2 separate regions of the Homo sapiens genome follow, and region 2 is linked to region 1. Evidence: fine-mapped expression QTL. Tissue or cell type: lung. Region 1 holds a variant in brackets; the other region holds the start of a gene. All regions are shown on one strand. Distances are from middle to middle.

Region 1 (8,180 bases):
TGGGACTACAGACATGCGCCACCACGCCTGGGTAATTTTTAGTAGAGACAGGGTTTCATCCTGTTAGTAGAGACAGGGTTTCACCCTGTTGGCCAGGCTGTTCTGGAACTCCCAGCCTCAAGTGATCTGCCCGCCTTGGCCTCCCAAAACGCCAGGATTACAGGTTTGAGCCACCGCACCCAGCTGACATATGAATATTTAGCTTTCGTAGGTATTGCTGATAAATGAATATTTAGCTTCAGTAGGTACTGCCAAACAGTTTTCACTCTCATCACAAGTGTATGAGAGAGGCGCGGTGGCTCATGCCTGTAATCCTAGCACTTTGGAAGGCCGAGGTGGGCAGATCACTTGAGCCCAGGAGTTCAAGACCAGCCAGGGCAACATGGTGAAACCCTGTCTCTACTAAAAATAGAAACAATTAGCTGGGTGTGGTGGCGTGCACCTGTAGTCCCAGCTAGCTGGGAGGCTGAGGTAGGAGGATCACATGAGCTCAGGAAGTCAAGGCTGCAATGAGCACAGAGCACCCCACTGCCCTCTAGCCTGAGCAACCGAAGAGACGCCATGTCCCCCCCAACCAAAAAAAAAAAAAGGTGTATGGGCAATTCAGTTGCTACATAGTTACCTAGTCTGCCAACATGGTTTTGTCCTTCTAATTACTGATTTGTCTTGATTTGTCAATTACCCTTCTACAAAGAGATACAGATATTTGTTAGTGAATTACAAAACTCCCTGCGATGGAAAATTCTCCATAGACTAACAGTTAAAGGTTTAACTTAAATGTTCGATTCTGACCCTAAAGGTAAAAAGAATTGAAAAATAAGAGAGATCAATGTAGACATGGAGAGAATTGAACCTTTGGAAAGGTTGAAATATGCTGGGCTTTGACCTGTCGGTGGTATTTGAATAGAGGGAGAGGAAAAGGGAAGACAGAGCTTAAGCAAAGAGAAGTGGGAAAGAGTTGGGACTAGAGCAGGAAGAAAGATGAACTAACTTGGCAGTGGGTGACCCTGGGGAGGAGCAGGGCATGTGGTTGGATTGGTAAGGACCAGCCAGCCTCGGGGACTTTGAAGTCAAGGAGTGGGCTTGGGATTTGGGTGATTGGGGTGGAGGAGGGGAATGGGGTGTTACCAAGTGCATACAGCCCCGAGTAGGAGTGAGATATATTAGATGAGAGTCAACTGGTCTCTCACCCAGTCTGTTTCCTCCTATTTCTCACAGTGAGGAGTATCTTACTGTGATGAGTGTGATAGGTATTTTTCTTTCATAGGGCCACTGAATGCAAGGAAGCTACTTCATGTGTTTCCCAGCTGAAGAAATAGATATGTTCCTGTGCTGAAGAGAAAACCAGATGTGCCAGATTAACTGAGAAATTGAATATCTGCATATGGTCCTGTATAGGCATTTTAAGGACTTTTCAGGGGGCAAATCTTGACTTTATGTGATTTATACTGCAGGAGATGACTTCACCAAATTAGAAGTTTTTGTGGCAGGTGTGCATGTACAAAGAGATGAACATAAGTCGGGGCTGCAGGCTCTGAGAACAAAGAGAAATAGCTTCACTTCTCCTGGTCTCCTTCTAGAGCTCCCAATGTCAGGGCCCATTTGTCTCTCCACCTGTGGACTCCGCCCTGCACTATTCATTTGCCTATTCACTTATTCATTCGGCAAACTTTCTTTTTTAAATTTAATTTTATCTTATTATTTTAAGTTCTGGGGTACATGTGCAGGGTGTGCAGGTTTGCTACATAGGTAAACGTGTGCCATAGTGGTTTGCTGCACCTATCAAGCCATCACCTAGGTATTAAGCCCCACATGCATTAGCTATTTATCCTGATGCTAAATAGCTCACCACCCCACTGCAGGCCCCAGTGTGTGTTGTTCCCCTCCCTGTGTCCATGTGTTCTCATTGTTCAGCTCCCATTTATAAGCGAGAACATGTGGTGTTTGGTTTTCTGCTCCTGTGTTTGTTTGCTGAGGATAATGGCTTCCAGCTCCATCCATGTCCTTGCAAAGGACATTATTTCATTCCTTTTTCTGGCTGCATAGTATTCCATGGTGTATATGTACCACATTTTCTTCATCCACTGTCATTGATGGGCATTTGAGTTGATTCCATGTCTTTGCTATTGTGAACAGTGCTCATTTAGCAAACTTTCACTGGATGCCTAGTGAAGGGCCAATCATTGAAATTTAAGATAAAAACACAGGGTTTCTGCCTTCAAGGAGCTGCCAGACAAGCAGAGAACACTAACTTGGAAGAGTTGGATGCAAAGAAGGTGTAAAAAGTGCTATAATAAAAGTAATGCATAGGACAGTAGGGCACATCGATTTTATCTGAGAATGTCCAGGAAATGTGTGAGCTGAGTCTTGAAGGATTACTTTGGAGTCCACCTGGTAGACAAGGTCGAGCAAGGGCCTTACAAGCAAAAGGGAGCAAGCCACAGTATGGCAGGAAGACTCCAAATCCTGTGGGCAGAGCATAGAGTTTGTGTGCAGAAGCAGCTACAGATGAGGCTGAGAAGTAGCCGGGGTCAGATTACGAAGGGTTGCAAACACCAAGTGAATGAATATGGACTTTACTGGGTGGACAGTGGGAGGCAGCACTACAGGATTTGAGCCAGAATGTTACAGTTCAGCAATGAGAAACACTGCACTGGTACCGGTGTGAAGGACAAAGCACAGGGAGTGAGCCTAGATACAGGAAGATCAGTTTGAAGGTTATTACATTAGACCTGGCAAAAGAAGATGCAAGCTTAAAATGAGCCCAGGACAGTGATAATGGAGAAAAGGAAATAAGTATTTAGGAGGTAAATTCTACAGGACTTAATGAGATTGGAGGAGGTCAGGGAAAGCCAGGGGGAAGAATTTGGATGACCCCATATATTGTCTGGGTGGATGATGGTACTGTTATTTAGGAGAGGAAAGATAGGAAAAAAGGAAGGTTTGGGCAGGACAAGAGAAGGAAGAGATGGAGGAAATGAGTTTAATTTTTGTCGTTTGAGCTTCTAATTTAGTGAAGTCATCCCATACTGTATAAATCACATAAAGTTAAAATTAGCCCCCTGAAAATTCCTTAAAATGCCTATATAAGACAGTGTGCAGATATTCAATTTCTCAATTAATCTGGCACTTTTGGTTTTCAGCACAGGAACAGATCTTACTTACCATTCAGTACTTATTTACTTACTTATTGTTCAATGCTCTTCCCAGATCTAAGTGTCTATGAAATATGTAAGTAGCCCTACAGTGTGACTTTCGGAAAGATTGTTGAGCTAGAGATGTAGATTTCAAATCATTAGAAGTGATTAAGGAATCATGAAGTCTGGAACAACCAGGAAGGACTGTGTGAGGTGAGAAGAAATTAGAGACAAGAACAACGCCATGGAGAACCCCAGTCTTTAAGGGGTGTGTGATGAAATGGCACCCCAGTGAAGGAGGTAGAGGAGCAATTTCAAAGATGAGAACTCGGCCGGGCGCGGTGGCTCACAGATATAATCCCAGCACTTTGAGAGGCCGAGGCGGGCAGATCACTTGAGGTCAGGAGTTCAAGACCAGCCTGTCCAACCTGGCGAAACCCCGTCTCTACTAAAACTACAAAATTAGCCGGGCATGGTGGCGGGTGACTGTAATCCCAGCTACTCAGGAGACTGAGGCAGAAGAATCACTTGAACCCAGGAGGCAGAGGTTACAGTGAGCTAAGATCAGGCCATTGCACTCCAGCCTGGGCAAAAAGAGTGAAACTCTGTCTCAGAAAAAAAAAAAAAAAGATGGGAATTCTTAAGCCAGAAGAAGCTCTTAACTGTGTGAGGGTGATTTCTTATTCGTGGTGGATCCACTCTATATAGAAAAGTGTCCAGCTCATAGTTGTTGCATGAATGAATAAACAAACGAAGAGACTGGTGTCATAAAGATAAGTAGGCATTTCCAGAA[G/A]GTACATACTCCAGTGCTGGAGGGAGGCCAATGATGCAAGATGAGAACGAAGTGTTCCCAGACAGATCTGCAGTTGAAACAGGAAGCACTAAAACAGCCTCAGCTGCCAGCCATCTTGAAGGGCGCAGCCTGAGTCACTCTCCTCCCCATTAGGACCTGGGGTGGGACCAGGGGATGCTCTTTCTTTCCTTTTTTTTTTTTTTTTTTTTTTTTTTTGCGTCTCACACTGTCACCAGGCTGGAGTGCAATGGCACGATCTCGGCTCACTGCAACCTCCACCTCCCAGGTTCAAGCGATTCTCCTGCCTCAGCCTCCTGAGTAGCTGAGATTACAGGCGCGTGCCACCACGCCCGGCTAGTTTTTGTATTTTTAGTAGAGACGGTGTTTCACCATATTGGTCTGGCTGGTCTCAAACTCCTGACCTCGTGATCCACCTGCCCAGCCTCCCAAAGTGCTGGGATTACAGGCGTGAGCCACCACGCCTGGCCGGGATGCTCTTTCTATAGTGGCTCTCTCCCACAAGCCCTCCCCTACTTCCACCCTGATGTCCTGGAGCTGAACCTCTGCCCTTAATCCAACTCCCAAGTTCTTACTTTGGTACATGGTTGTATTAGTTATCTATTGCTGTGTAAAAAATTACTTCTAAACATAATGGTTTAAAACAGCACGTATTTATTATTGCAGTTTCTGGGGTCAGGAATCTGGACAGGATCCCTTAGCTGGGATCTCTGTTTCAGGATGTCTCACAAGGCTGCCATCAAATTTTCAACTGAGTCAGGATCCATTTGCAACTCACTCAGTGGTTCCTCAGGGGTTACTGAACCGAAGGCCTCAATTCCTTTTAAGCTGTTGGCCACAGCCTGGCCTCAGTACCTAACCATAGGGGCTTCTCCAGCATGGCAGCTTGCCTCATCAAAGCTAGCAAGAGGCTAGGCATGGCAGTTCACACCTGTAACGCCAGCCCTTTGCGGGACTGAGATAGAAGGATCACTTGAGCCAAGGAATTCAAGAACAACCTGGATAACACAGCAAGCCCTCATCTCTACAAAATTTAAGAATTTTAGCTGGGCATGATGGCACAAGTGCATGTGGTCCCAGCTACTTGGGAGGCTGAGGTAGGAGGACGACTTGAGCCCAGAAGGACAAGGCTGCAGTGAGCCATGATGGCACCAGTGCACTCCAGCCTGGGCAACAGAGCGAGACACTGTTAAAAAAAAAAAAATCTAGCAAGAGACTCGAAGAGAGTTTGCGAGCAAGAGTGAAGTCACAACCTTTTGTAACCAAATCAAGAAAGTGAGACCAGGCGCAGTGGCTCACACCTATAATCCTAGCACTTTGGGAGGCCCAGGCAGGTGGATTGCCTGAGCTCAGGAGTTCAAGACCAGCGTGGGCAACACAGTGAAAACCCATCTCTACTAAAATACAAAAAACTAGTAGGGCATGGCGGCGTGTGCCTGTAGTCCCAGCTACTCAGAGGCAGGAGAATTGCTTGAACTCGGGAAGCAGAGGTTGCAGTGAGGTGAGATCATGCCACTGCACTCCAGCCTGAGTGGTCCCCAATGAGCCCCGCCTCCAGGCACTCACCCCTGTGTGATTTGCTCACTGTGAATGTGGGCTGCACCTGGTGACTTATCTGTAACTCATAGAATATGACAATGATGACCAGATGTCACTTTTTTTTTTTTTGAGGTAGAGTCTCACTCTGCCACTCAGGCTGGAGTACAGTGGAGCAATCTTGGCTCACTGCAACCTCCGCCTCCTGGGTTCAAGTGATGCTAATGCCTCAGCCTCCTCCCAAGTAGCTGGGGTTACAGGCATGTGCCACCACGCCCAGCTAATTTTTATATTTTTAGTAAAGACAGGGCTTTACCATATTGGCCAGGTTGGTCTCGAACTCCTGGTCTCAAGTGATCTGCCCACCTCAGCCTCCCAAAGTGCTGGGATTACAGGCATGAACCACCGTGCCCAGCCCAAACTTTCCCTAAACTTAAGATTTGCTCTGCTGAAGATAATTCTTCTGACAGTTGTCTTCACCACCTTGGTTGAACCAAGACAGAAAAATCTCATAACCTTAGATGTCCCTGTACTAATAATAGCTAATGCTTCTATAGCGCCAATTACATGCCAGGCTTTGCATGAGCTTTCTATGAACTTTACAAATAGTAACTCATTTAATCCTCATAACAATTTTCCGAAGTAGAGGCTCTCATTAACTTATTTTACAGACAAAGCAACTGAGCCACAGAGAAGCAAGTACTATATCTTGCCAAAGGTAACACAGCTATTGAGTGGTGGAAGTAGGATTTGGGAGCTGGGAGTTTGGTTCCAGAATTCCTGATGTGAACCATTATGCTATTCAATAACCCACATATAAGCTGGAATACAATACTGTCCAGTCTGGCACACTGTGACATTAAAATAAAACATTAAAAACATAGGCCAGGCAGGGTGGCTCAAGCCTGTAATCTCAGCACTTTGGGAGGCCGAGGTGGGCGGATCATGAGGTCAAGAGATCGAGACCATCCTGGCTAACACGGTGAAACCCCGTCTCTATTAAAAGTACAAAAAATTAGCCGGGCGTGGTGGCAGGCGCCTGTAGTCCTATCTGCTCGGGAGGCTGAGGCAGGAGAATGGCGTGAACCCAGGAGGCGGAGCTTGCAGTGAGCTGAGATCGCGCCACTGCACTCCAGCCTGGGCGACAGAGTGAGACTCCGTCTCAAAAAAACAAAAACAAACAAACAAAAAAAAACATAGCTAAGCAACCAAAACAAAATTCCAACATTTAATTGGCATTAAAAAAGATTTAACCTATAACCTACAGCAGCACATTTTGGTTCTCAGAGCCCTTCATTTGGTAGCTTTCCTCTACGAATGTTCCCTGAAACCCAGCCCAGATTATTTTTTATTTTCTTTTTTCCATACTTCTCTCTTAGCTCCTTATGATATAAATTGACTTTGTCTTCTGGCTTCATTCTTTAGTATCCTGTTCATGTAGCCCCTTTTTATACACAAAAGGGTGATCCTAGAATTGACCCAAGCCACCAGGAATTTTACCCCTTGTCCTCCTAACTCTCAAGTCTGCCTTCTCTATGTCTATTTCTGTATCATAAGAAAAACAGAGAACCAGCAAAGACAGAATTCTCTTTGGAGAGTAGGGAAGAGGGAGAAGCTGAGCAAATTAGGAGAACTTCTCTTTAGCTGCTGGGGATGGAGGAGAGAAAAGACGGTCGAATGGGAACACATAGCTAATTATCCTTGTCTTTGTCACATTCCCAGAGATGCATGACTGAGGTGCTATGTCCTTATCATTGCAGACAGGGGGCCAGGCAGAGTGGGGCTGACCCAACAGCACAGAGGGCCTTGGGCGTGGCAGGGAAGCTTACTTCTGCAATCCAGCTCAGCCTGGTGTTTCCTCTGAAGCAGCGAACGGGGGGGGGGAAAGCTCATGGAGGGCCGGGGAGGGTGGCAGATGCCTCCAGCTCTCCAAGCCCTGCTGCCAGCCTCAGACCCAGGATCCACGCTTTGCTTCCAAGCCCGGAGTCTGTTCACAGAAAGGCTGTGAGAGCCACTCCAGGAAAGATTAGAGCCACACTTCACTTTCTCTCAAGGTAAAACAAGGGAACAGACTTTTAAATCCTGGATGTGATGGCCACCTCAGCAAAGCATCTCCATAGGCCCTCTATCCATTCCTGCTGCCCACAGTCATTCATAATTTCTGCCCAGACTCACTTCAACTGTCCATGAAGTCACCCCCAACTTTCCACCTCTCTCCAGTCTCGGTCCAGGTCACATGCCACTGTCAGTCTAATCTTCCCAAATACCAGTCTGATCACACCATTTCCCCACTCAAAATTCCTCAGTTACTCCCCTTTCCCTGTAAGTTCCTTGCCTAGACCTCAAAAGCCTCGAAGCTCCCTTTCTACACATGTTTTTCTTTTCTTCTTCTTCTTTTTTTTTTTTTGAGACAGTCTCCGTCACCCAGGCTGGAGTGCAATGGCCTGATCTCGGCTCACTGTGACCTCTGCCTCCTAGGTTCAAGCAATTCTCCTGCCTCCGCCTTCTGAGGAGCTGGTACTACAGGCATATGCAGGCATATGCCACCACATCTGGCTAATTTTTGTGTTTTCAGTAGAGACAGGGTTTCATCATGTTGGCCAGGCTGGTCTTGGACTCCTGACCTCAAGTGATCTGCCCGCTTCAGCCTCCCAAAGTGCTGGGATTACAGGGGTCAGCCATCACGCCCAGCCTAG
Region 2 (8,180 bases), 48 kb before region 1:
CCACTAATACTAGGCAAGCTACTCTGCTGGTGCCAGCCTTCTGCTCCTGAGAAAGAAGCAGGTAATATTCTAAAATCCTTATGAGCAGAATTTCTTGACATTTTGTCTCCATTATAGTAACCTTAAGGTGGCTCTCCATTTTTCAGAAAGACACAGGAAATGCAGCTACTTCTGATGAGTTCAACTGCATTGACAAAAAATGGACTAATTTAGAAAAAACAATCTAACAGGGCCCACAACCTATAGATGGTTGCCTACTGGATATGGTTTGAAAAATTATACTGAAAACCCACAATCTTGGTATATTTTTGCCCAGCAAGTTGCTTGGAATTCTGACCAATAAGGAGCACATATTTTGCATAAAACTTTGATTTGCCTGATTGCCCCACTTAAAAATTCAAATGGTAACTATATATAACATTTCAAGGAACTCCTAGATATGTTATCTTGCTGGAACCTACTTACTATACCAGGGAGTGACATAATTCATTAAACGATTATTGTCTATTAACATCCTAATTTTAATTAGTTTTCCAGAGATGGAGAAAACAAGCCCTGAGAGAATAAGACCTGGAAAGTGGCACATTTGGATTGAAGGGGAGGTAAAAACCAATTGGAAACATGGCCAGGGTGGAGCCGGTGAGGCTCTGTGGTCCCACAGACACCTCTGAACTGACACCTGCACCCATACAGGTGCTGAGGGAGAGCTAAGGAGCCACAGACAGGAAGGACAGAAGTCACAACGACAAACTTCACCCACTCATGCTTTTGCCTGGGCCTGACCTGGAAGTCCTAATTAAAAGACCCTGGACTGCCAGATAGACTCATCCCAGTGCTGGGAATGCACACATGCTATTTCTTGAAAGAACAACTTGGCTGTCCCCCAGAACAGAGTGCCCAGTGTGTACACTGGGATTCCTTTCAATAATTAGAATCCTCTACTTATGCCAGATATTAATCGGGAAAAAAAGGAAGCTTTAGTTTTGAAACATCCCTTCTCACTCATTAGCACAATCCTTTAATAATGCACCTTGGAGGCCCTGAGTAATTCTTCTAGTTTGCTGCCCCGCAGCATGTCTGGGTTCCAAGGATTCGCTTGGAAGGTGCTGGATACCCTATCCTCGCTGGAGCTGGGAGTGTCCAGAAGCAGCCTCTTTCTTTACCTTTGAGCCTCTGTTGCTGTGTTCCCTGAGCCTCCCAAGCCTCATCCTACTCTCGGACTTGGTGGTCAGGTGGCATGGGGCCATCCCCATCCTCTCTTTGGCCCTTACTGTCCTTATCTGTCAAGTGAATGGTTTTGATTTCACTGGTTTTCATCCCTAGCTGCACATTAGACTCACCTGGGGAACTTTAAAAACCAATCCCAGGGCTGCACACCTGGGGATTCTGATTTAATTGGTCCAGGGTGGGGCCTAGTCACTGATTTTTTTTTTTTTTTTTTTTTTTTTGAGACGGAGTCTTGCTCTGCCACCCAGGCAGGAGTGCAGTGGCACGATCTCCGCTCACTGCAACCTCTGCCTCCCAGATTCAAGCGATTTTCCTGCCTCAGCCTCCCAAGTAGCTGGGATTACAGGCGCTCACCACAATGCCCAGAATAATTTTTGTATTTTAGTAAAGATGAGGTTTCACCATGTTGGTCAAGCTGGTCTCGAACTCCTGACCTTAGGTGATCCACCCGCCTCAGCCTCTCAAAGTGCTGGGGTTACAGGCATGAGCCACCATGCCCTGCCCCAGTCACTGATTTTTTTTTTCTTTTTTAAGTTCTCCAGGCCCCACAACCACTAGGTTAGATTATCTCCAGGGACCCTCCCAGTTCTATAAAAGTCTATGATCCTTACTGTCTGGTCTCTGTGCTTTACTGAATTTATTTTTTTCTCCATAAATACTCATCTTTTATGTTCAGCATGTTACATAGGCTGATTTTTAGAAATGCTTTTACTTATTTAAAAATTATATTGTTGGTTAGGCACAGTGGCTCACACCTGTAATCCCAGCACTTTGGGAGGCCAAGGCAGGCAGATCGCTTGAGCTCAGGAGTTTGGGACTAGCCTGGGCAACATAGCAAAACCCCATCTCTACAGCTGGGTGTGGTGGCACAAGTCTGTGTTCCCAGCTACTTGGGAGGCTGAGGTGGGAGGATTGCTTGAGCCTGGGAGGCAGAGGCTGCAGTGAGCCGAGATCGTGCTACTGCACTCCAGCCTGGGTGACAGAGTGAGATCCTATCTCAAAAAAATAAAAATAAAAATAATGTGGTTAAAGTATTGTTTGTTGGGAGTAATCAGCTATAATACTGAATGTTTAAAGTACACAATTTGATAAATCTTCCCATATAAGAAATGGTCACAGTCACAATAATGAACATATCCATCACCCTCAAAAGTTTCCTGTGTACCTTGGGAGTCCCCCCAAACATTTTTTCTCCTGCCCCTACCTTCCCAAGTAACCATGGATCTTCTTTCTTTCTTTTTTTTTTTTTTCTTAAGACAGAATCTTGCTCTGTCGCCCAGGCTGGAGCGCAGTGGTACAATCTCAGCTCACTGCAACCTCCGCCTCCCGGGTTCAAGCAATTATCCTGTCTCAGCCTCCCGAGTAGCTGGGATTACAGGTGCCCACCACCAAGCCCGCCTAATTTTTGTATTTTTAGTAGAGACGGGGTTTCACTATATTGGCCAGGCTGGTCTCAAACTCCTGACCTCAAGTGATCCGCTCACCTCGGCCTCCCAAAGTGCTGGGATTACAGGCGTGGGCCACCGCACCCAGCCACTTTCTTTTTGCTATAGATTAGTTTGCATTTTCTATCATTTTATACAAATGTAATCACTCAACACATCCTATTTTGTGCATGGACATAACATCTAATTATCTCCCTGGACTTTAGATTTCAAGCTCTTTGAGAACAAGATCCATTTTTTCTTTTCTCTTCCTCTTGGCCTTCAACTTATCTTTTCTCAGATATAGCCCTTAATCATTATTTGCTTGATTGACATAAGACCTTCATGAACTTAAAACCAAGCTTCAGTTTGGTGGCTAAGAAGTGCCTGCCACGTTGAAGGTTTTTAACTCGCCACCACTTCTGGAGAGGTTCCTCAGTCGGCAGCTTCAGCCCAGTTAAAAAAAAATAATAATAAGCATATGAGCTTCATTTAGGTCCGTGGACTTCTAGGAGTCCAGAAAGTGAGAGTCAAGGTGTGGGTTGGGGTGTGGGGTGGAAGGGGAGGCTCAGGAAGCGAGGAATGAATACCTGAGAAAGGTCCTTGGCTTTCACCAGATTCTTGATACAAAGGGATAGACTATGGAATTAATGCCCTGCTCTATTCCTATCTGCTTTTCATGAATCTGTTGTTTAATTATAAATCCTTTACTATCTGCTCCTCCCTTCTCCTCCCTTCCCACCTCCCCAGCACCTTCGTTTTGTTCTCTGCCTGCCCTGGTTATACTTAACCTTACTTAACTAAACACACTACAGGGCCCTGTCCAGTAGCAGTGCCACTTCATGGGAACTGTTTGCATTCCTTTTCTCTTTAAGAGCTTCTTATCTGAACTATGTGATAGATTGTACCTTTTTATTCAATGATTCTTATTCCACTTTACTTAACAGTTTACCCTGAATACTTGGATGCCACTCACATATCACAAACCTATACTTTCTCTAAACCCCAGAGCCTGGGATTCCTTTTCATCTCAAAAAAAAAAAATCACTGTTTTTGTTGTTATAAATAAGTATTATGAGAACCAGAAGTAACAATAAACTGCAAATTCAAAATCAAGCCACTTCTCCATCCAGAGACAGCTCCCTCACTTCCCCTTGTCAAACACAAAACATATTTTAAAACGATATTATGTCTGATTTTAGATAAAAGTCTGGGATGTAGAATAACAATAATCTGCTTCTAAATGAGAAAATCATAGGCATCTGACAAATGCTGGTTTCAAAGTTATCTTTCCAAAATAGAAGCGAGTAAGAAAAACATCTCACCTGCTTGGCCAAAAGACCAACACCAACTCCCCTTCCTCCAAATTCCCCTCGACCCCATGCAGTTTTGTTTGTAAGGGACTGATGTCTTACACCCAGCAGCATTTCCTAGCTTCTGCTTGGGGGTAAGCTTGTCATTCCTATTCTCCCTTTCACCTCTACCGTTTTCCAACAGATGAGCAAATACGGTAACGATAGCATTTTGGTCTAGTTCCTGCACAAACTCATTCCTCTGCATAAAAGGCAGACCTTTGAAAGGTACTTACGTGGAAGAGGCAAAGGCAAGCGCAAGCCCTGGGTTTGGAAGCTGTGTTTGCTGATGCCAGCCTGCTTAAATAGCTGGGCTGGCTGACGCAGGCTGCTGATAGCACGTTTATTTACGCCTATGAGCACACACTCGAGCAAGGACCTGAAAAACCTGCAGCGTGGGCAGGAGGTAAACCACTGAAAGTATGCCGAGGTTACGTCTCTCCTGGTTATTCAGGTTTGATGTTCAGGCTGGGACTTCTGAGAGTCTCATGGAACTTTCTCGTCACTATCTTCTCGTCCCTGACCTCTCTCCTAGCCAAGCAAGCTTCTTCACCAAGATAGGATAAGAGAGATGTGGCTGAGAGAAGACGGGGAAGAGAAAAGGGACCCTGAGTCTTCTCATCCACTTCCTTACTTTGAGCGAGTTTCCAGTTAGATGTTGCCTCATTTCAAAGCGTAGATCTGGTGCGGTTGATTTCACAGCTCTGAGAGCTGGATGCCAAGCTAAGAGCCTGGACAATTGCCCAATTAATGAAAGGTTGTTTTCTTTTGGGCACAGAATGTACACATAAAGAACAGTTAAAAGGGAGAGATTCGGGCTAGGATGATACAGTTTTAGGTCTCCCTCAAAAACGATTCTCATTTATTTCCCCTGCATCTGTACTTTCCTCTTACCATCCCCTCCCCTTCGTTAATGAAATTCCTGTCTAAGAGGTGAAAGATTCCCCATGGGCTTGCGAATAAAAAGCCAGTGTGTGAGCAAGTCTGTGGGAAGATGCATGCAGAGTGTGACAGAGAGTTTAGGGGCTCGTGTGACAATCCGTGGAAATGTTTCTAAAGGCGAGGGTATGTGTGTGGGTGTGAGGACCCGGCTGTTGGATGTTTACGTATTTTATTAGCTAGATACGGGAGCTAATACTCAATTGCAGTGCACTAAACATTATTAGGTGGGTATGATTTTGAGGGAATGAGGGAAGGGAGACAAGGTCTGGTGAGATCATCTGTGGGATTATCTGTGTGTATTTGCTGGTTTGTAGCACAAACCGGTAAGTGCCATCCAGAGAGCCACACCCTATATTATTCACTTCAGCAGAGAAAGAGAAAGCCCACTTGAGTCTCTTGGGAACAGTAGCCATATGTGAAAGAAGAGCAGCGCTCATTCAGAATACCTCTTTCCCTCTTGGAAAAGGGGGTGACGGTTATAAAACATGTGTGGGAAAGAGTAGAGACAGGGGGCCCAGGTTAACCCAACCTTGGTTACCAGAGGAATTCTTTTGTTTCCTGCCTAATTCAATGCCTAACTTCTGACCATTCTATGGCCAAATCTGGATTCTTGCTGCCACGATTTTTTGAATGGGCAGGGTCTATGTCTTGTTTATCATTTGATACCCACAGCATTATTATTATTATTGTTGTTGCACAAATTATTACTATGACAGCACAAATTATTATGATGATGACAATGGTGATGATCCATAATCTAGTAAGACTGACTGTGTGTCAGGCTCCATGTAAGGACTGTACAGAGAGTTTGTCTGCTTATTTAATATGTAATACAATAACCCTATGAGGTTGTATTGTTTTTTGTTTTTCACTCAGGCTGGAGTGCAGTGACACGATCTTGGCTCACTGCAGCCTTGACCTCCCGGGCTGAGGTGATTCTCCCACCTCAGCCTCCCAAGTAGCTGGGACCACAGGCACACACCACCAGAAGTGGCTAATTTTTTGTAAAGACAGTATTACACCATGTTGCCCAGGCTGGTCTCAAACTCCTGGGCTCAAGGGATCCTCCTGCCTCAGCCTCCCAAAGTGCTGGGATTACAGCCGTGAGCCACCATGCCCGGCTGAGTTAGTTTTTTTTATTATCGTTATTTTACAGAAGAGGAAACTGATACTCAGAAAGACTAAATAACTTTCCCAAGGTCACAGTGAATGGTGGGGGTGGAATTTGAATCCAGTTCTATCTGATTCCAGAGTCAGGGTTTCACTCAGGACTGGCTTGAACCAATACTTAGAAAGTTGCCTAAGAGTGTTTTCACCTATCCTTAATTGTGTTTTTGTTTATCATCTGTCTTCCAGAATGTGATTTCCATGACAACAATGACCTTTCTGCATTGTTTACTCCTGTGATCCAGAACAGTGCCTGGCACTTGGTAGGTGCTCAATAAATATGTGCCATCTGTTCAGTTTCTAAATTCCCGTGGAGGCAGTACAGCCCAACAGATAGAGGTCCTGGCATCAACAGAGTCTCATCCTGGTTCAGATGAGACATTTCTTTTTCTCTTGCATAATGTGTCAACTTCAAGCTGTTTCTCTTTATCCGGTGTATCATGGAGATTAAAGAAAAAGTGATTGAAACCATGAAGCAGTTTTTACATCACTTGACTCTGCAGGTAGCAGGTATATGGTTCCGGTTGATTGGGGGTGCAGTGATGAAACCAAGACCTCTAGCTTTTTCCATCTTTCATTTTGTAGCTCTCAGTGTGACAGCATTGTCTCTCCTCATGGTGGTAAGATGGCTACAGTAGCTCCATTCATCATATCTTTAAACAAAATATCCAAAGACAGGTAAAAAGTGTCCCAGGCTTTCTTTCTCCTAAGTGTCTTTCCTTGTTAGAGAGGAAAACCTTTTCAGAAATCACTAGGAGTCTTTCACTTATGTCTCCTTGCTGAGCACTGGGTTGTGTCAGCCAACACATTGGCTAAATCCATCATTTTCAAAGAGGAAAGGGATCAGGCTGATCATGGTTCCTCTCCTGGGTCTAAGGGAAGAATCCACCTTCTCCAGACAAATTGCTCTGATCATCTGAACAAAATCAAGATTCATTTATTAGTGAAGAAGCAGAAATGTGCTACCCACAGTTTTGCCAATCTAAGAGATCCTTTAAAATACAATAACCTAAACTTCTTTCATGCTTGGGCACCAGTCCAGCCATGGCAATTGGGTTTTACTATATCAGTTCTCTCTTTCTATGCTTTTTTTTTTTTTTTTCCCAGTGAGATAAGTTTGCTTTGGCTCTCAGTAAAATTAAGAGTATTTCAACAGCCTGCAAATAAGGGAGGTAGCTGGCCACTAATTTTTTTCCTGCAGGTTTAGATCCTAGGTCTTTATATCACCACCGATTTCCAGGGACTATCACACAATCTGTCAGCCTCTTGTCTTCTCCTGTGCCAGATGGGATTGGATGATGCTGTTGATTTCTTAGAGAAGTTGGGTCCAATAACACAACTAATTATAAAAACATGACTCATTTTCCTGCTCCTCCTGTTGTCTATTATATTTCAGTGGAATTCCAGGATCCCACATGTTTGCCTCTGCCTCTGCCTGAGAGCTCCAGCTAGTGCCTGGGTTATGTAAACTAGAGACATATGGCTGAGATGGTAATTCTCACATAGTTCTTTTTCCCCTGGTGATTAACAAACTTCAAATTACCACCCACAGTAAGTGTTATTTTTCTTCTATTTGCTGTTCTAAACCTTTTCCTTGCCACAGGTTTTGGGAACTCTTTTCTTCAATGGCTCAAATCAAGAGAATTAGGAGGAAGAATGGGGTCGTGGGATGTTCCTCCGCAAGAGAGGAACAATGCCTGGGGGAGGAAAGGGCTTCAGTAAGTGTTTACTGTGACTGGACAAATGGTGGAAAGGAAAGAGTGTGGGCTTCTCAATCCTGCAGACTTGCATGAGGTCCCACTACTTCTGCTTACCACCAATTTGATCAAGGGTAACTTATATAACTTCTCTCTGTTTCCTCATCTGTAATATGGGACTGATGAGAATTATCTCACAAGTTCGTTGTAAGGACTAAAGATATGTAAAGCACTTACATAATACCCAGAACATAGTAGGCGCTCCATAAATGGGTAGCTACTGCTAATAGTTACAAGAAGAAGCTGGATTTTCCTATCCTTGGTCATCTTTGTGGAACCCACACAAAATATGAATAGGGAGCATGCGGACC

Evidence for each region. PIP is the estimated chance that this variant, and not a neighbour inherited with it, causes the effect.
Region 2: it holds the start of HOPX, and the variant in region 1 is fine-mapped to the expression of HOPX in lung (TOPMed, PIP 0.96).

Annotation. Positions count from the first base shown.
Region 1 is chr4:56,724,765-56,732,944 of GRCh38, forward strand. No RefSeq gene overlaps it. Among named protein-coding and RNA genes, the nearest start is that of CHAER1, 24 kb to the left of the region's middle. The variant G/A (reference allele first, on the strand shown) is at 3,931.
Region 2 is chr4:56,677,016-56,685,195 of GRCh38, forward strand. HOPX (HOP homeobox) reads right to left here and starts at 4,281. Exons shown (of 4, transcript NM_032495.6): 1 at 4,240-4,281. It overlaps LOC105377666 (a long non-coding RNA gene), which reads left to right and starts at 6,218. Exons shown (of 3, transcript XR_941078.3): 1 at 6,218-6,375; 2 at 7,509-7,663. RefSeq lists a silencer at 4,279-4,328.